3 linked regions of the Homo sapiens genome follow. The protein of the gene in region 3 purifies or fractionates together with the protein of the main gene of each other region. This does not show direct contact. Each region holds a gene or a part of one and is shown on either strand. Other genes may lie near its edges.

Evidence for each region. Proteins that work in one complex are often made in the same cells at the same time.
Region 1: the proteins of TSC22D3 (region 3) and NRBP2 purify together in Homo sapiens (affinity purification with mass spectrometry; 2 studies listed by BioGRID and IntAct, with this or other methods). This does not show direct contact.
Region 2: the proteins of TSC22D3 (region 3) and TSC22D4 purify together in Homo sapiens (affinity purification with mass spectrometry; 4 studies listed by BioGRID and IntAct, with this or other methods). This does not show direct contact.

The regions. Positions count from the first base shown.
Region 1 is NC_000008.11:143,833,078-143,838,000, forward strand, and holds the end of NRBP2 (nuclear receptor-binding protein 2), read right to left. Parts: intron 4,740-4,923; exon of another isoform or gene 4,679-4,739; coding exon 4,546-4,678; intron 4,433-4,545; coding exon 4,330-4,432; intron 4,223-4,329; coding exon 4,172-4,222; intron 4,098-4,171; coding exon 3,962-4,097; intron 3,104-3,961; coding exon 3,050-3,103; coding exon of another isoform or gene 2,954-3,049; coding exon 2,890-2,953; coding exon of another isoform or gene 2,799-2,889; coding exon 2,743-2,798; coding exon of another isoform or gene 2,654-2,742; coding exon 2,585-2,653; coding exon of another isoform or gene 2,361-2,584; 3' UTR 506-2,360; downstream 1-505. UniProt on the Homo sapiens protein: May regulate apoptosis of neural progenitor cells during their differentiation.
Region 2 is NC_000007.14:100,469,210-100,476,241, forward strand, and holds part of TSC22D4 (TSC22 domain family protein 4), read right to left. Parts: intron 5,232-7,032; coding exon 5,065-5,231; intron 1-5,064. Other genes in the region: TSC22D4-C7ORF61 (uncharacterized protein LOC122198330), read right to left, coding at 5,065-5,231.
Region 3 is NC_000023.11:107,765,787-107,772,818, forward strand, and holds part of TSC22D3 (TSC22 domain family protein 3), read right to left. Parts: intron 1-7,032. UniProt on the Homo sapiens protein: Protects T-cells from IL2 deprivation-induced apoptosis through the inhibition of FOXO3A transcriptional activity that leads to the down-regulation of the pro-apoptotic factor BCL2L11.

The sequences.
Region 1 (4,923 bases), on a different chromosome or scaffold from region 3:
GTTAACCCATGCTGACCACTGGGCTGTAAGTCCAAGAACAAGTAGCCTGGGCAGGGGGCTTGTATGGTGGGGGCTCCAGGAAAAGAAGAAACTGAGCAGTCAGTTATGTGATGAGTCCTAAGCTGTGACAGGATGCTCATGCTTCTTCAGGAAAGTCTAAAGATGAATCAATGACAAACACATATAGAAAACTAGGCAAACCAAAAAAAAGGCAATTATTAACTCCAGGGAAAACAAAAAGTTGTGCAAGAAATGCCATCCTAGAACACCGTGTTCTCTCCTGAGACGTGTGGTAATGAAGCTGTAATAACACCCATGCAGCTATGATGCCCGTAACACTGGAATGATGCCGCCAGGAGACTGAGGCAGGTGACCGCCCTCCTCCCAGAGGATGCCAGCCAGGGACATCTAATGTAGAAAAACGAATAAACAGGACTAAAAGCATGCTCATGGTTTTGAAAAACATGGATTTCAAATGCCTGAAGAAACAGTTAAGAGAGTTGAATTTGGAGAGGATCAGAGTAGGAGCCTGCATTTATTATTTATTATTGGCCTCAAAAAAAAAACTATTCTACTTTAAAAACAATACATATATAATTCTGAAAAGATAAAATTTAAAAGGAAAAATTCAACAGAGACATGATTAAGTGCAGCAATGGTGGTATTGATGCTTTTAAGTTCAGTTTAATCAGTAGTACAATGTTATGTATTTGCCACTGAAACCATTTAGAACCATGCATAATCAGACAGTTTAGCATGAGGGTTTCCATCTAGGATATGGAAATTACTTTAGATTGCTAATTTTGAGTTGGAAGGCGTGAGAATTTGAATAATTTTGTAAATAGTATTGGAATATTTAAGATAACTGAGATTCACGATTTTGTACCTTTAATTTATTTGATATGCGTTAGTAAGTCTTGCTTTGGTTTTTGGCTTTTGGTTGGAGTGCTGTGGTCAGCAGAATGCCACCCTTCCCCAACAAAAGAGGTTCATTCCTTAATCCCTGGAACCAGTGAATGTTAGTTTACATGGCAAAATGTGTCCTGCAGATGTGTTTAATATTAAAAACCTTGAGGAGGGAGATTATCATGTATTATCTGGCTGGGCCCAACCTAATCTCATGAGTCCTTAGGGACAACCTTTCCTGTCTGCAGGGAACCAGAGAAATGGTTCGTGACACAGACTGAACCTGCTAGCTCTGAAGATGGAGGAGGGGGCCAAGAGCCAAGGAATGTAGGCAGCCTCTACAAGCTGGAAGTGGCCTTAGTTTACAGTCAGCAAGAAAGTGGGGACCTTGGCCCTGCCACCGAAAGGATGTGGATTCTGCCAGCAGCCTGAAGGAGCAGGAGACAGAGTCTCCCCTAGAACCTCCAGGAAGGAAGGCAGCCTGCCAGCCTTGATTCTAGTCCAGTGAGACCCATAGTCAGACTTCCAGCCTACAGAATTGCAATAAATTTGTGTTAAGTCACTAAGTTTGTGGTAAATTTTACAGCGGCAGTATAAAACTAATACAGTGGTGTGCCTTCCTGGTTGACATTTGAAATGCGTTTAGAAAGGCATGAATGCGCTAATGTATACATACAGTTTAAAATGCTTAAGGCCATTTCACTAAGTTTGGAATTGGAGGAGAGGCAAGCCAAGAATCAAGAGGCCAGGAAGGCAGGGGTAGAATCCATGAGGGCATAGAAATCTCTAAGACTGAGCCAGGAGTGGAGTGGGAGAGAGGCAGGGAGCCAGGAGCTGACATCCTCAGAGGCCCAGGGAGCAGCTGCCCCAGGGAGGAGGTGCGGGAGGTAACATGGAGGGGCTGTGAGTCTGAGGAGCAGGGAGGATGTGGGGTCCCTGACGCCTCCAGGCCAGGGAATGCATGAGAGAAAAAGCCCATTGGAGGGGCTGCAGTGGCCAGAGGAGATCTGCAGAGGGGCTGCAAGTTCTGGTCTCAGGGTGGGTAAAGGGTCAAAGAGGTGGCTCTAGGGCAGAGCTGTGTGGGACCAGGGGCTTTGCTGACAACAGCCTCAACTCCAGACCTCTCTGTGGTCTGTTTCTCCTGCCAGGTCCCTGTTGTGCCCAGTGCCATGCCTGACACCTGCAGGTGTGTCACCGCTGGCTTGCTGTGCAGGCTCCTTGTGTGGGTCTATGGTGCCAGCAGGGGATGGCTGCTCTCCCAGACCCCATGGAGCAGTTCCCTGGGCAGAGGTCTGTCCAGGGCTGACCCTCACCCCCAAGCCCCAGAGCTGGGGTTCCCTACAGGGCAGCCTCCTGCATGCTGAGGAGGCAGTGGCCCCGGCCAGGCAGCCTGGGTAGGAACTCAGGGCGGAGAATGGAGGATATGGGAAGGGGTTCTGGGGGCAACCCTGATCCTAAGGACCTGGGAGGCCTAACGGCTCCCCCACACCCACCCCCCAACCCCTCGGCGCCCAAGGCAGGGTCAGCCCCACTCTCAGGAGACGGGGGGTTCCTTCACTACCGGGGCCTTTGTGCTCCCAGGCGCATGGAGGAGGGCAGCCCCACGGTGCTGGAGTCTCCCCAACATGGCCTGCCCAGGCAGCACCCCGGCATGGTCCCCTGGGGCTGGGGCTCCGGGTCAGGCCTGGGTCCCACGGTACTTGAGGAAGGTGCTCTCCAGGAAGGCGGCCAGCTTCATCCGGTCGTCCTGCGGAAGGAGGGAGGCATGGGGGACGGAGGGGCGCGGCCTGCCCCGTGCGCCCCCTCCGCCAGGCCGCGCCGCACCGCCCAGCGCACCTCGTGGAGGAAGCCATAGTGCACGAGCTCCGAGGCGAGGTCCTGGGCGCTGTCCGCTGAGGCAATGGCGTAAGGCGAGGCATGAGGCCGCTGCCCACCCGCCGCCTGGGGTCACCGCCCGCCGCCCAAGTCCCCTGCCCAGCCTACTTGGGAGCAGGTCGTAGGTCAGCTGCCGGTGCAGCCGGTCTTCCAGCACCAGAAGCAGAGTGAGCTGGGGAGGCGGCGGGGCGTGGTCGGCTGGGGGTTCAGGGCTCCGCCACGCTCCCGCCTTCCCCACGGCAGCGCCGCCCTCCCAGGCCCCGCTCACATGCCAGCGCGCCTTGTCCTCGCTTCTCTCCAGGTTGCACTGCATCTGGATGACCTGCAGCGGGGGAAGGCTGGGACTCACAAACCCAGCAGCAAGACCACATGCCGCGGCCCCAAAGGGGCCGGGAAGGGACAGCAAAGACTGGAAAGGGGGGAATCTCTAAGAGGAGCCCATCTCACTGCTAGTGGCTTGGCAAGCTAAGGAAAGCTTCGAGAAGAGTCGACATTAGGGGCTGGGTACTGAAGGCTGAATAGGAGCTTTCACCGCGGAGAGAACAACTTGAACAAAGAGGGAACTGTGGGCGTGGGGAAAGGGAGGTTGGGCGGGACAGGACCGCGCCGAAGTGCACGGTGCCTGCGGGATCAGGCCTCCCAGAGCCTGGGTGTCAGCTGAGGACTCCCATGATCTCTGCTGGCAGCCAGGAGCAGGCAGTTTGCCTGTTAGGACATGAATTCTGGCTGCACTGCACCGAGAGAGGCCCCTGGCCAGGAGGGGGTGCTGCAGGAAAAGTCTGGGGAGACACCAGGACATAGATGTCCGGGAATCAGCACCAGGTGGGGGATGGGAGGGGTGGGGGGGGTGGGAGGGGTGCGGGGGTGGGGGAAGATTGCTGGCAGGGTGGAAGAGCCCGGGTGAGTTCTGGAGGAAGGATGCTTGGAGTAGGTTCAGGGCAGGCAGCAGGATGCAGGGGAAGGATCTGAGGGGACAGGGAGCCTCCCGGAAAAGGAGAGTGCCCAGCCTGTCCTATAACCCCCATGACCCCCACAAGGGGGTCAGCCTGGATCTGGTCTCTGGCAGCCAGGAGGAGAGCTGGGCTGTGGGGATGCAGGCCCTAAGAGAAGGAGGGGCACCTCTTATCTGGCTGTTAGAAGGTCTGAGGGATGGCACTGAGCAGCAGGAGAGGGGACTCACCTTTCTGGTCTCAGAGTCAAAGGGCTCTGGCGTCGGGGTCTTGGCCTTTTGGACCTCCTCCGGGGGTGGGGCCAGCACACGGGGCAGCCCCAGGGGTCGAGTGGCTGCAAAGTTCATCAGTGGGTAGATTCCATTCCTGGGGACACAACAGGGTGGCTGGGGGTTCAGGCCTGACAGCTGCCTGGCCCCCAACCTTACATCAGTTCTCACCTGACATCCTCCAGGAATTTGTCCAGCTCCATGAAGGAGACTTCCGAGTACCTGGCATGGAAGTGGGAGGCACATGAGGGGCTGGCCGGGGCGAGGGGAGGGGAGGTGCGGGGAGGGGAGGTGTGGGGAGGGGAGGCTTCTGGGTGCTGACTGCTCACCGCCACTGCAGCGGGGGCCTGCGGGGCCGGGGAAGCTCCGCCAAGACCGCGTGCAGGTCCATGGCCTTGGTCTTCTCCTCCACCACATTCTCAGGCATGAGGTCTGCGGCCACAAGAGCATCAAGGCGGTGTGCTCAGGCCGTGGGTCCTGCAGGGCCCCTTCCACGTCCCAACCTCCACCTCCCCAGCCACCCCCCGGGCCGGCCTGCTGCTCACACTGGTGCTGGATGAAGCAGTGGGCTGCCAGGAGCTTCAGCGAGTGCACCTCGAAGAGCACGCGGTGGAAGAGGAGGCTGTGGGCAGAGGGCCGGCGGGCAGGGTCCCGGGCCAGGCAGCAAAGGATGAACTCCTGGGGCACAGGGAGGAGAGGCTGGTGGTGTGCAAGGGCTCTCTGCTCTGGCCCCGCAGTTCGAGGAGAGGTGGCCCCTGAGTTCCCCATGTCCCTCCTCAGGGACACACAGGACATGCAGGGATGCCCATAGGGAGGAGTCCCAGCAGCAGCAGCCAGGCCAGGACCTGGTCCTCTGAGCTTGAGGACAGCTGGGTTCTGGGATTGGAGCACCATGCTCTGCTTCCCTCGACCCCCAAAAAATC
Region 2 (7,032 bases), on a different chromosome or scaffold from region 3:
AGAGCAAAACTCTGTCTTAAAAAAAAAAAAAAAAAAATCGCCTATGGGCCTGGGACCTGGGTCTGGGGTCTCAGAGGAAGCGAGGGTTTGAGGAGAGGAAGGGAAGTGAGCTTGGAGAAGGGACACTGGGAAGAGGAGCAACAGGGCTTGGAAGAGGGCTGGGAGTCTGGGGTGACAGGGTCTGGCTGCAGTCTGGGAAGTGGCCACCAGAGGGCGACTCAGGCCTGGCTCAACAGCCCCCAGGGCCGGGCTCCAGGCTGGCTCCACGACGTTGGGCTCCTGGTCCCAGAACCTGGCTCTCCCTCAAGCCCCACTCTCAGGCCCCACCTGCGCAGGCCCTTGTGCTGACCTCATCCTCCAAGGCTCCCTCTCCCACCCCTCAGGCCCCAGGCTCTTGCCCTGAGGCTCCCGACCCACCCTTGCACCCCTGCACTCTGGCGCTGTGGCGGGATCCCCAGTCCTGCCCTCCAGCCCCCAGCTGGGCCCCCCTTGGAGCAGGGGCCTCAAGGCGCTGCAGCCCACATCCCTGGACTCCCTTGTAAGCCCTCCCTCCTGGCTGTCAGCTCAGACTTGCTTTCCTGCAGGGGGATCAGCACTCAATTCAAGGTGACCCCTGGATAAGGTCCTGCAGCCAGGAAGGGAGCACAAGGGAGCTGGGAATTTTCCATTTCTCATCCCAGCTCTGGGTGCAGAAGGCGCTGACAGGTGGAGCAACTAAGGAGGTGACTAGGCCTGAGCGAGCAGGATGGGGTGGGTGGGGGAAGGGCATCTGGGACTCTTGGGGTGGTGGGAGAGGAGAAGTTGAAGGGTGGAGGTGGGTCTGCCAGCAGGAGGGTCAAAGTAATTTTCGAGCTATTTCAATCAGCAACACCTGGGTGGAGATGGAGCCACCACAGAAAGCCCAATACTGCCACCACCCCATTAAACACTCACAGAGACCAAAGGGGTTGGATACACAGGGATAGGAACATGGGCCCTGCTGGGCAGAGACTCAGGGGTAAAGATGTCAAGTAAGGTGTTCATTCTCACCAGAGATAAAGGAATAATACAGCAATAAACGTTTGTTAGCCGACAGGTGACTGTCTTCTGTTTGTCTAGCGCCTGGGAGTTTTTGCTCTTGTTGCCCAGGCTGGAGTGCAATGGCGGGATTTTCCCTCATTGGAACCTCCACCTCTGGGTTCAAGTGATTCTCCTGCCTCAGCCTCCAGAGTAGCTGAGATTACAGGCATGAGCCACCATGCCCAGCTAATTTTTGTATTTTTGCCGGGGAGCCTCCGGCAAAATGGGGTTTCACCATGTTGGCCAGGCTGGTCTTGAACTCCTGACCTCATGATCCACCCACCTCAGCCTCCCATCTCAGTCCTGGGATTACAGGTGTGAGTCACTGTGCCAGGCCTCTATTGGAACATTCTAACACACACTTCAAGGGACCAGGGCTCTGGCAATGCAGGCCCTTCCCTTTAGGACCCCAAAGCGAGGGGTTGTGGGCACTGTGCTAGAATTCTTTGACAGGGTCCGGGGGAGGAAAGTAGGGGCTGCTGAGACAGGATCGACCTCCACCACAAGCCCAAAAGCAAGTTTGTATGGATTAGAAAATGCCCCCTTCTTCGAGATCCTTAATGCCATCTTCTGGAAAACTGTCGTGACTTCAAGCATTGACTGTGATTTCAAATATGAGCGGCACCCCCTGGAGTTAGTTGTGCAGTGTGTGACATGCACAGTGGGAGACTTAGCCCTGCAGGACTCTTGGTCCTGGGGCGGGGACAGCCCTAGAAGCTGGTCTTCCTCTTTGAGGGTCAAATAAAACGGCCTCAACATGAAGATGAGATAAAAAGCAGGACACCTGGGAGAAATGGGGAGCCTGGGATCTTGGGGACAGGGGCCAGCCCTGCACACTCTCCAGTGGGTTCAGGGGATCCCCCAGGGCCTAGGTCTGGGGCCAAGAAAGTGTCATCCAGCTGCCCTGTCTCTATGCTGTCCCGGATCTGTGGTGTCTTTGGGGCGGGGCTGGGGAGGTCGGGGAGGGGGAAGGGGGGCTGGCTCCCTGCCCTGCTTGGGAGAGCTGTACCTGACTGTCCTAGAGAGAAAGGATATTGTAGACCATTGCCGCCACCTCTTTGCCTGGGACACAGGCATCCCAGTAGGACAGTGGAGAAGGTGTGGCTTTGGAGTTGGACCCAGGCTCCAGCTGCAGTCCAGCCACTTAAACTAGCTGGGTGGCCCTTGGGCAAGTTTCTAAAACCCTCCTGGCCGGGTGAGGTGGCTCATGCTTGTAATCCCAGCACTTTGGGAGGTCGAGGTGGGTGGATCACCTGAGGTCAGGAGTTTGAGATCAGCCTGGCCAACATGGTGAAACCCCGTTTCTACTAAAAATACAAAAATTAGCCGGGCATGGTGGCATGCACCTGTAGTCCCAGCTACTGGGGAGGCTGAGCCAGGAGAATCGCTTAAACCTGGGAGGCAGAGGTTGCAGTGAGCCAAGATCGTGCCACTGCATTCCAGCTTGGGAAACAGAGCAAGACTCCATCTAAAAAAGAAAAAAACAAAAACAAAACAAAAAAAAACCTCCTTCTCTGAGTCTCAGATACTTCATCTGGCAAGTGGGAGAATGGAACTGCTTTTTAGGATTAGAAGGGAGAAGGCAGTACCGGACCCAAGGGAGGCACTGGATAAATAAATGTACCTTTTCTTTCCCAAGTCCCTGGGATCCATTCTGTATAATGCCTGGATCCCCCAGGCCGGTCACTGCCCCCACCCCCATTCCTTCCATCCACTTCTTCACACCTTAATTACCTCCTGCCTGCCGGGAGGGGACAAGGATTTCCAGCCCTGGGGCACGTGAGCATTCTAGATTCACCTGCACCCTCTGTTCGCCCATCCCCAGATTCAGGGACTGGTCAGGCGTCCCCAACTCCCTCCCTGTGATCCAGGCACTGAACATCTCAGCCCACCTTCCCTCTTAAGAGAGAGGTCCCAGGCCACTGGCATCCTGTCCTGCCAGCCCTGTGCACACCAGACAGGAGAGGTGGGGCCTACATGTCCCATTCCTAGGGGGCAGGGGGTGGCCCAACCCAAACCCGCTGGCCTGGCAGGGTGGGGCTTGAGGGGCTGGGCTGGGACAGATCCCCAAGAGCCTTGGAGCACAGCAGGGTGAAGTGGAGGCTGGGAACCGGACCGGTCAGATTGGGGTGTGCAGGGAGGGGGTGGGATGGAGGGAGGCAGGGAGGGAGGGTACAGGGGAAAGACGGAGGCCTCAGGAGGTTGAATCCTCTAAGACAGAGACAGCAGGAGGCTGGGCTGTGAACTCAACAGGGGTGGGGGAGGGACGGGGAGTCCTCTTGCCGGGGAACCTCCCAAGTGGGAGAGGGAGAGGGCGGGAAACGCTGAGAATAGCAGTGATGGCGGCAGGTGACTCTCCCAGCCCTGGCCGACCTCACACCTCGCACATTCCTGAGAGTGGGAATGGGGCGTGCAGAAGCCACCCAGTCCTGCCCAGCCCCGCCCAGCCCCACCCAGCACTGGCACTCTTGCCCTCCGTCCCACCAGCTCCTGGCCACCTCCTTTGCCAGGTCCCTATCCTCCCTGAGGCCGCAGGACCCTATCAGTGGTGGGCTTGAGTCCCTGATCCCAGCGAGTGGCCCCTGATCTGGGGAGGACAGGAAGGAGCGACTCCCATCTGGAATTGGTCCCTCAGGCACCCACTCACCCACTCTCGAAGCCCCACCCCCAATTTCCTTCCAAGCAGGAAGTCCCTCCCCTTGAAAACCTCCCACGGGAAGTCCCACTTCTCCCTCCAAAAGAAAAGCGGTGACTCCCCAGCCCTTCTGCCCGGTTCCTATCAGTCCCCGGGGAGAAGCAGGCAGCCTGGCTATCTCTGACTCACGATTCTGGGCCTCCCTTTTCAGCTTGCTGGCTTTCTTAGGAATGGTGACACCTGGCCCTGAAAACCCACCCAACAGAGCACTGTCCCCTAAAGGGAGAACCCCAGAAAGTCGCTCTCTGCAGTGCTGCCCCTGCCCCTTTGCCGTTCCTAGCTCTGATTCTGTTCCTAGCTGGCCCATCTTAGGGACTTGCTTTCTCGGTTCTAGAAATCTTAGGATCCTAAAGTAGACCCTGTGGGCTATCAGGATGTCACGCTCCACAGGTGCTGTTAGGGAGTCCCAGTCCTTTGTTAGGAGAGAAAGAGGGAGATGGAACTGGGAGGAAACTGATTTCCATTCTTTTTCAGTTTTTTTTGTTGTTTTTTTTTTGAGGCGGAGTCTCGCTCTGTCACCCACGCTGGAGTGCAGTGGTGCGATCTCGGCTCACTGCACCCTCTGCCTCCTGGGTTCAAGTGATTCTCCTGCCTCAGCCTCCTGAGTAGCTGGGATTACAGGCACGTACCACCACGCCTGGCTAATTTTTGTATTTTTAGTACAGACAGGGTTTCACCGTGTTGGCAAGGCTGGCCTCGAACTCCTGACCTCAGGTGATCTGCCCGCTTCAGCCTCCTAAAGTGCTGGGATTACAGGCATGAGCCACCATGCCCAGCCTACTTCCTTTATGTATATATATATATATTTTTTTTTTCTTTCTTTCTTTTTCTTTTTAGAGATGAGGTCTCGCTACATTGCCAGGGCTTGGTCTTGAACTCCTGGCCTCAAGCAATTTTCCTGCCTGGGCCTCCCAAAGCACTATGAGTACAGGCGGGAGCCACTGTGCCCCGGCCTGATTTGCTATTCTGTCTAGAGCATGCATTTGCCAGTGGGTTCCTGGGTTGGCCAGATGATCTCTAAATCTGCAAGAGCTCTGGAATCTGACAACAATGACTCCCTTCAGACTCTAAAAAAGTCTGTGACCTGACAGTTCTGAGCCAGGGAGTCCCACCCAGCCCTCTCCACAGAGAGGGAGTGGGTCCGAAATCAACTGTGTGCAGTGGCTATGCCCAGGCCAGGTTTCTCTAAGAGGTCCTCTCCAAGTTCAACCTGGGGGAAGGATGCCTACCAGGCACTTTCTTACAGCTACCCCGGGTGCTGGGCGGGGAACCTGAACCCCACGCCCCACCACCCCACGAAGCCCACCTACCTATCATCGTCGCTGTCTAGGTGACCACTGATGGCCAACATGGAGTGGGCCAGGCTGAACTTCTGAGCTGCTACTGCTCCGAAGGGGTCTGGAGATTTGTGAACCAGGCTGGCATCGTGGGTGAAGTAGAGGGCTGGGGAGCTGGGGCGAGAGTCAAGTGGGGGCACCTGGAGGCGGAGAGGTAGGAACCATCACATGAAAAGAGAAAAGAAAGGAACCAGCTGCCTTAAAACTTGCCTATTAGCCTTCCTCCCTCTCCACCTCCCCACTCTCTTTCGAGGACCCAGGAGTCCTGTCCCCGCAGTCCTTCCCTCCTCCAGCTCTGGAGAAGGCATTAGGCAGGTACTAGAAGCAAGAAGTGGGTCAACCTAAGGAATGGGAGGAGTGGTGTATAGGACATTAGAGAGAGTCTCCCAAGTGGGAGGAGGGGGTGACTGACGGAGGAACCCAGAATAGACTCCAATGCCCCAGCTCCCACTGGGCCGGGACCCCTAATCAGAGGCTACGCAGCGTGTCTGCCTTCTTTTATGTTTTATTTTTATTTTTTTGAGACAGTCTCACTCTGTCACCCAGGCTGGAGTGAAGTGGCACAATCATGGCTCACTGCAGCCTTGAATTCCTGAGCTTAAGCGATCCTCCAGCCTCAGCCACCCGAGTAGCTGGGACTACAGGCATGCACCATCATAACTGGCTAATTTTTTATTTTTGGTTAACACAGGGTCTCAAGATGTTGTCCCGGCTGGTCTCAAACTCCTGGGCTCAAGTGATCCTCCTGCCTCAGCCTCCCAAAGTGCTGGAAGAATGAGCCACCACTCCCAGCCTGTGCCTTTACTGGAGTCTCGCTCTGTCGCCCATGCTGGAGTGCAGTGACGTGATCTTGGCTCACTGTAACCTATGCCTTCCAGGTTAAACTGATTCTCCTGCCTCAGCCTCCTGAGTAGCCGGGACTACCGGCACCTGCCATCACACCTGGCTAATTTTTTTATTTTTAGTAGAGACGACAGGGTTTCACCATGTTGGCCAGGCTGGTCTTGAACTCCTGACCTCAAGTGATCTGCCCGCCTCGGCCTCCCAAAATGCTGGGATTACAGGCGTGAACCACTGCACCCAGGCTGCCTTCTTAAAATGACTCCAATGTCACCTCTTAGAGAGGCATTTCCCCATCATTCACTGGTTTACTGAACTATTTCATTTTTTTATAGCACCTAACATTATCTGAAATTAAAGTATTTATTGTGTCTCTCCCCTGCTAGAAGGTCAGTTTGCTCAGTAGCTATTTGTAGAATGAATGGATCCTCAGAAACTGCTCCTCCATCCCCTCACCCACCCCCCACTCTCGCTTCCCCTCTCAAACTTCTCGGACTCAGGTGGAATTCTGCTCCTGCGCTCTGCCCTAGGGTTGGGGGGGGAGCTGGTTGTGGAGCTGGGGGGAGGCGGAGCCTGGGCGTGGACCTGCATAGCCCAACAGGCTCTGGGGGCAGCAGCAAAAAGGGCGGGGGCGACAGGAACATGACAAGACGCCTCTGTGAGGCCCCGGGAGGCCCCAGCTTCTCAGAAAAGCCAAGAACAGAGAGTCCAGGGTGGTTAAGGGACAGAGCAGAGGAAGGGGGCCCAGGTGGTGTCCCCTGGCCCTTCTCCACCACTCCCCTCTGTTAAGAGGGAGAAGAGGCATGAGGGGACGTGGAAGGGAGACAGACTTTTGGGCAAGGAAATAGCAAAACAGATGCGTGCAAACAGAAGACCGTCAGGAGGTGGGGGAAGGCTGGGGAGTAGGGGGCACTGAGAGAGAGAGGCAGGGTCTGTGGCCCCAAGAGAAGCTCAGGCCAGGCTTAAGGACAGAGAGCAGGGAAGCTGGAGGCCAAGGGGGTTTGCTTTGGAAGAGTCTGGGGACAGGACAGGAAGAGAAACAGCATCTTCTCCCCTGGGGTGGGTGCTGAATGCAAGAGTTCAAGAAGAGTTGGGGGAGGG
Region 3 (7,032 bases):
AGGAGTCCCACAAAGGAAAATTCTGCATCTCCATCTCAGGTCCCCTAATTTTCACTGGATTCTGTGATCTGGGGGACTAAGGGTGCCAAGCTCTTCTGAGCCCTGAGATGGTAGTCTTGAGCTTGTCCAAGAACTTATGAGTCAGCTTTGGATACAAATCATGCCTGCTGGTAATTCCCACACCACCTTTTTGACTTTGTTTCCCTGTTTCTCCTCTATTTCTTGGAGTGGAGAGCAGTGTCCCCACCTACTCACAGCCTGTGAGCCATTTACTTGATGGCAACACACGTGAGACAGGCTGGGGAAAAGACAAAGGAAGAGAAGAAGAGGAGCTATTGGTTTAGTTACAAACCTTGAGCTAGTGGAATATTAGATTGATGGGGGTATTCTGTGCTGTAGATAGTCACATTTGTTATTAGAGAAATCTGTCATAGAATCTGGCAATACTGACTTCACTGGGGGCTCAGTTCCACTAAGCCGGTAATGTAATTTTCTGAATAGGCCAGGCAGAGAGCTAAGAATCACTGTGAATTCAGGTCAACCTGGGGACTTTGAGACTTCATGGAGCGTGGACTGGGAATTGGCTCTTGAAAGGCCTTCCTTTAAACAGCTCCTCCACCTTCCGGTAAACCCTTTCACCTGGTGTCAGTCAGCCTGGAGTTTCCGCCCCCCCCCCAACAACTCCCCCCACCCCAACCCACCCAGTAGTTTCTGAACCAACAAGCAGATACAAAAGGAAGAGGGACTTCTGCGACCTGTTCTGGGGCCTCTCCATGCACCACGCAGTTTCTTTAGCAGTGCATTATCAGGTGATAGTAGGTTCCTCCCTGCCACCTCCAAAATGCCTCAAGCCAAATTAAGTCCACTCCAGCTTGCCTGTCTGCTTACATTTACTGCTGAGTGTGGAGGCTGAGTGTGGGACCGGGTCAGGCTTTGCTGCCTGGCATTTGCCTCTGAGCAGACTGCTTGCCTGACACTGGGGAGAGTAGGCTTTTCCTTGGGAAGTATGATGAGCTTGACTTGGACCCCCAGCAGGCTTCCAAATGCCTGTCCCCAGGGAAGCCTACCACTGAGCAAGCAGAAGTGTGATGCCTCAGTAACCTGGCTGTTACATAAGATGTGCTAGTTATGAGTCAGGGCCCTCAGGCTGGCCTAGGCCCAGCCTAGTCTGGGAGTGAGGCTAAACGGCAGCGCTGAAGGAGGGGTGTCTTGGGAGTGGGGTAAGCCAGGAAGGAGCTGCTGGAGTCGCTTCCTTTCCTCTCACTTCTCACCCCCTTCTTCCTTAGGGATAGCTCTAGCCAATCACCAGCCTAGATAGCACGGAGCGGGAATCCTGGCCAGACCCCTAAGCTGTGAACAGCTGCTCTCCATCTCCCCTGAAGAGAAGATTAGAAGAAGTGGGTTGAATACTCAAGCCTATTCTGTGAGTAAAGTCTTCCTTCGAGGAAGGATGGGGAAGGTCCCTGTGTGCTCTGTCCATAGGCAGGGGCCCGATTTCTGGCTGGACCTATTTGAGGAAAGTGGCTCCCAGGAGAGGAAGGCCAATGGTGAGCCTGGATCATCAGTGATCCAGCCTGCTTCCAGCTCTTGTTTTCCCTCGGGCTAGTGTCTGCACAATGGGAAGCTTCCCATTCAGTCTTCTGTGCTGGCTGGGATCTTAATGCCTCTTATACAGTTTCCAGAAGGGCCACAGCTACTTTGGGGCAGGAATTTTCAGCTAGAAGGTACAAGTGAACTTGCCTTGCCTACTGATGAAATTCCCTCCTGCCTGGAATAGAATCGAGAAAAGCTTGCTTTCTGCTCTCACAGATCGCATCTTAGCCCCACTCCAACTCTAGTTAAGCTGGATTTCAGCATGGTAGACAGTGGCCTCCAAAAGACATTTTCCCTGACCTGACTCTTCATCAAACCTAGGTTGCCCTGAAACTGGGATCTAGCCTTCTGGCCTTCATGGGGCTCCTCCTAGCCCATGGGGTTCTGTGGAGGGCCTTTTCTGCCAAAGCTGTGGTGCTACAGCAATGCCCTAACCCTTGTCCCATTATTGCAGACTTTGGGACAGCACAGTATGTTCTGGGCCATTATTGTTCTCTTTATTTAAAAGGAAATTTCATCTTTCTGACCCCTGTGGTCATGGACTCCTCTCCCCTGAGTTCACTGAGCACACAAAATACCCCATCAAATGAACCCATGTTTTAGTCTCAACTTAGCACATTGGTTTCTCCAGGGTTCAAGAGGCTATTGCACGATACCAACCAATTTGTTATATAAGCCCAGCCAGCCATGGCAGATTATGGCTTTACAGTTATCTCTAGGGATGGCTTACATAAGAAGAAGAGAAAGTTCAGGTAGGAGCAGAATCACGATGAGCAAACAGCGCAACAGCCACCACCAGGTGCAGACATGGCCAAACTCATTCCTCCCAACCAACCCACCCACCAGGTGGGGGCAAGAACTCTGCAGGGTTCCATCACCCGGGATGCCTAGAGGTCTTGGCAGTCTTGGCCAGATACATCCATCTCCATTTTACCCAGACTCCCTGGCCTTCAGTACCTGATCTGGAAAGGAGCCAACCCTCTACCTGGAATGGAGAGCTTGTTGGATTATCTGCAAGTGCAAATATAAGCAGGAGTGTTAACCTTCTCTTCAGGCAGGGAAGAAAACTAAGGTCACCCTGGAAAGCATTATTTGCTGAGGTGTGGACTCAGTAAATAATAGTCCACTCCTGGCAAAAACTGAGGAGTAGATGAAATTCAAGCTCTGTGCTTCCCACCTTTCTTTAAGAGCATGAACTTTCCAAACAGATCTTTTGAACTCTCATGCTGTCCAGGCCCCGTGCTGTAACAGCCCAAGCTAGGCCTTCCATGGACTCCAGCCCCATCTCTCTACCTCTCTCCTCCAAAGTTGGCTTTGCCACATTCCAGTCCCATAGGACCCTATTCCCAGTGGGCTGTCACCATGACCAGAGGTCTGATAAACAAATCCATACAAAGTAGTTAATGGCAAGTAATGGTGTCACATGTTACTCTTTAAAAAGGTATGCTAGACCTTGGCCATTCATGAGAGATACACACTAAAACTTTTGCCAGTCTCCAACTCATGGATGCAATCTCCAAAGCATGTCATTTCCCCCATAAAAAGTCCATTCCCAGGCAGCACCATCACTTTGCCAAACTTTGTAGCTTTCTCTTCGTTGTAATCACTAGCACCAGCAGCTGGCTTAGAGAGGGAGCATTCTCCTCAAGGAATGCCCTGAGACATTTGCTCATTTTATGACAGGTTCCTACGTATGTGTTGACTACGAGCAGTAGACCACAAAATTGTGTTGAAAAGTAGGTGCTGGGCAATGCCACTCCTAGGTATATACCCCAAAGAATTAAAAGCAGGGACTTGAACAGATACTTGTACACCAGTGTTCATAGCAGCATTCTTCATAATAGCCAAAAGAGGGCAACAACCTAAGTGTCCACTGACAGATGAATGGATAAGCAAAAGAGGTATATCCATACAATGGAATTTTATTCAGCCATAAAAAGAATGAAGTACTGATATGTGCTACAACATGGATGAACTTTAAAACATGTTGAGTGAAAGAAATCAGACACAAAATATTGTATGATTCAATTTATATGAAATATCTAAATAGGCAAATCCATAGAGACAGAAAGTAGAATAGAGGTTACCAGGGGGTAGTGGGAGGGGAAAATAGGGAAACGGTGAGTTATTCTTTAATGGGTACAGAGTTTTTGTTTGGGATGATGACAAAATTTTGGGAATGATAATGGTTGCACAACATTGTTAATATACCTAATGCTACTGAATCGTACACTTAGAAATGGTTAAAATGGCAAATTTTATATCTATTTTACCACTATATATATATATGTACTATGTACAATATATGCATATAATACATCTCTCTCTTTCTCTTTCACACACACACACACACACACACACACACACTAGTAGATGTGGGGTAGGGCACCAGGCTCACTCATTGGTGAAAGGACCGGCCCCCACCTACTAGTCTCCTTGCACATGTGATTCACATCTGTGCCTCAGCAAAAACACAGTTTCTTACCAGTCTGAGTTCTCATGAAGTATCCAAACCATGAATGTTAAGTTTGCAAATGCATTTGTGCTTTTAATGGAGAAGGTCCCTTAATCCAAGAATGCCTATTCTTTGTCAGACCACTAGGCACTCAGGAAATAGTTATTTTAAATTACTTTGGGCTATGAAAGGACTTTTGAAGCTTGATACCAAAAGCAAAAATCACAAAGGCAAAGAATGACAGGCTTAACCACACAGAAACCCAAAACCGCTCTACAGCGAGTAACTCCATCCTCAAAATCAAATGGTAAATTAGTTGACAATGCGTTGCAATCTCTAATACAGGGTTTCTCACAGTGTGGTCTACATACCAGCGGTGCTCTGGGAGAGGAATTTTAGATGGTACATGGACAGAGAACTGAATCTTAAATAGTATGAACTTAGGCACTGCAGCAGGCAGCCACTCAAATCATGCCGTGTGAGTGGCCACCACCTCAGAAGCCAGGTCCAGGAATATACATTATGAAATTACTTGTTCTGAGACTCACTTAGAGAAGCACAAATAATTTTTTGCACAAATTTTTCTTGAAAACCTGATCTCTGAATCTATATCCTTCCCCTTTGTTACTATATTAATAGGGGATATTAAATGAATTAGCACACATAAAGCAATTAGAAATGTTTGCTATTTTTATCATTTTCTGAGCATTTATATATGGGAACCAGTTGGGGCCAGGTCAGAAGCTTAAAGGTAGAATCCTAGGGTTTTTAGAGCTGGAAGGGAAATCGGATTCAGAGTATTTCAGACCACACTAGCCAGGTACGCTCTGGGGTCAAAGGTAGAATAGAGCTGATTAAGAGGTTTTGGGTAAAATCTTAGAAAAAAATTTGAGGTTACAGCAACAGCAATCACAACGAATACTGTCAAAGCTCCTGTTACAGGTTGTTATACCTTACAGGTCAGAAAAATTAAGGAAGGCTCTTCAAATGTCAACTTGGGAAGCTTTTTCATATGCTACATTTAAATTGGAAACTTCTGCTGTTTGCCCAGAATATTCTATCTCCCTCCTAAGTTTTCCAGTATTAGAAGCATATTCAAATGACAAGGGGGAAGTCCCCTAACAACAGGGTGACCAACCATCCCAGTTTCCCTAGGACTGTTCCAGTTTGAGCACAGGCAGTCCTATGTCACAGGACTGGGATGGTTGGTTTCCCTACCTAATAAGGACATTTTGACCATTTGGAAAGGTTCTGAGCTCACATTTACCTCTGCTTCATAGACAATTCTTAAGTGTTACAAGAATTTCTTTAGCATTAGTTTAGTTACTGAGTGTTCTTAACAATTCTTTCTTCATAGACAATTCAGGCTCTGCTCTTCATTGTGAGGCATTGGGCAAGATACTTAATTTTTTCCAAGCCTCAATTTCCTTCTTTATAAAATGAAAATGGATGATAATAGTACCCATTTGGTCGGGCGCAGTGGCTCATGCCTGTAATCCCAGCACCTTGGGAGGCCGAGGCTGGTGGATCATTTGAGATCAGGAGATCGAGACCAGCCTGACTAATATGGTGAAACCCCATCTCTACGAAAAATACAAAAATTAGCCGAGTGTGGTGGCGTGCGCCTGTAGTCCCAGCTACTGAGGAGGCTGAGACAGGGGAATTGCTTGAACCCAGGAGGTGGAGACTGCAGTGAGCTGAGATCGTGCCACTGCACTCCAGCCTGGGCGACAGAACAAGACTCCGTCTCAAAATAAATAAATAAATAAACAAATAAATAAATAAATCCATTCCAAAGAGTTGATGTAAATATTAAATTAGATTATGCAGGTACATTGTGAATGTTCAAGAAGTGTTAGTTATTAATCTGTTATGGTTATTAGTTACATAATACAAGATTGAAAGGATGGTGTTTAAAATACACTTCTTCCCCAACCCAATTGTTTACAGGTACCATTTACATACCAACAGGCTGCATGCCCATTCTCACTGATTCGTATGTATATACACAGCACTATCAGGACTTCCATCAGGCTATGAGAGTTACTGCATGTGGTTAAAACGGAAGGAAAACAACTTTTAAACATTAATAAGGATTTTCTAGCACAGTATAAAGTTGTAAAATCTTTACAAGGGACCACGTCAATATTTAAGTAGTCATCCAACTGAAGAAACCTTTATTGAATATTGGCTGTATAACTAAAAGCCAAGGGAAAACCAAGCAAGTAAAACACAGCCCTACCCTCAAATTGCTTATACTCTTGTGTTCCAAGGAAACCAAGAACGAAGCTGGGAGCCAGGGACAGGTCAAAGCAGACAAACCAGATGTAAATCAAGAATGTGCCCTGCTCTTCTTCCTAAAAATATAGGAGCCCTCTTGGCAAAGGAATGGACTGCAGGAGGAGGGGTGGGAGACTAGCTTCTCCAGCAGGAGAGGCCTTGAAAGTTGACAAAGGAAAAAAGCACCCAACAGGAACCTGAAATGTCAAATCATTAAATTGAATAGAAGTAAAAACGATGGCTGAAGTATGATGATAGAAACCCAGGGAATTTAATGAAGTAACAAGGGATATGTTCACTTAGGAGAAGGCTGTCTACCCCAGATATTGGAGAAGCCCCATGACCAGCAATAATGGTCTTCTAGTTTGCTAATGAGCATGTCATACTGGGCAAAACCTAAACCGAATTCAGAATCCCCAGTCTCTAAGGTCCCAATTGTCAAGGAAAACAAGAGGGGATCAGTGGCTCATGCCTGTGATCCTGGCACTTTGGGAGGCTGAGGTGGGCAGGTCGCTTAAGCCCAGGAGTTTGAGACCAGCCTGCACAACATGGCAAGATCCCGTCCCTATAAAAAAAAAATACAAAAATTAGCTGGGCATGGTGGTGTGTGCCTGTAGTCCCAGCTACTTGGGAGGCTGAAGTGGGAGGATCGATGGAGCCCAGGAGTTTGAGGCTGCAGTGAGCTGTGATCATGCAACTGCACT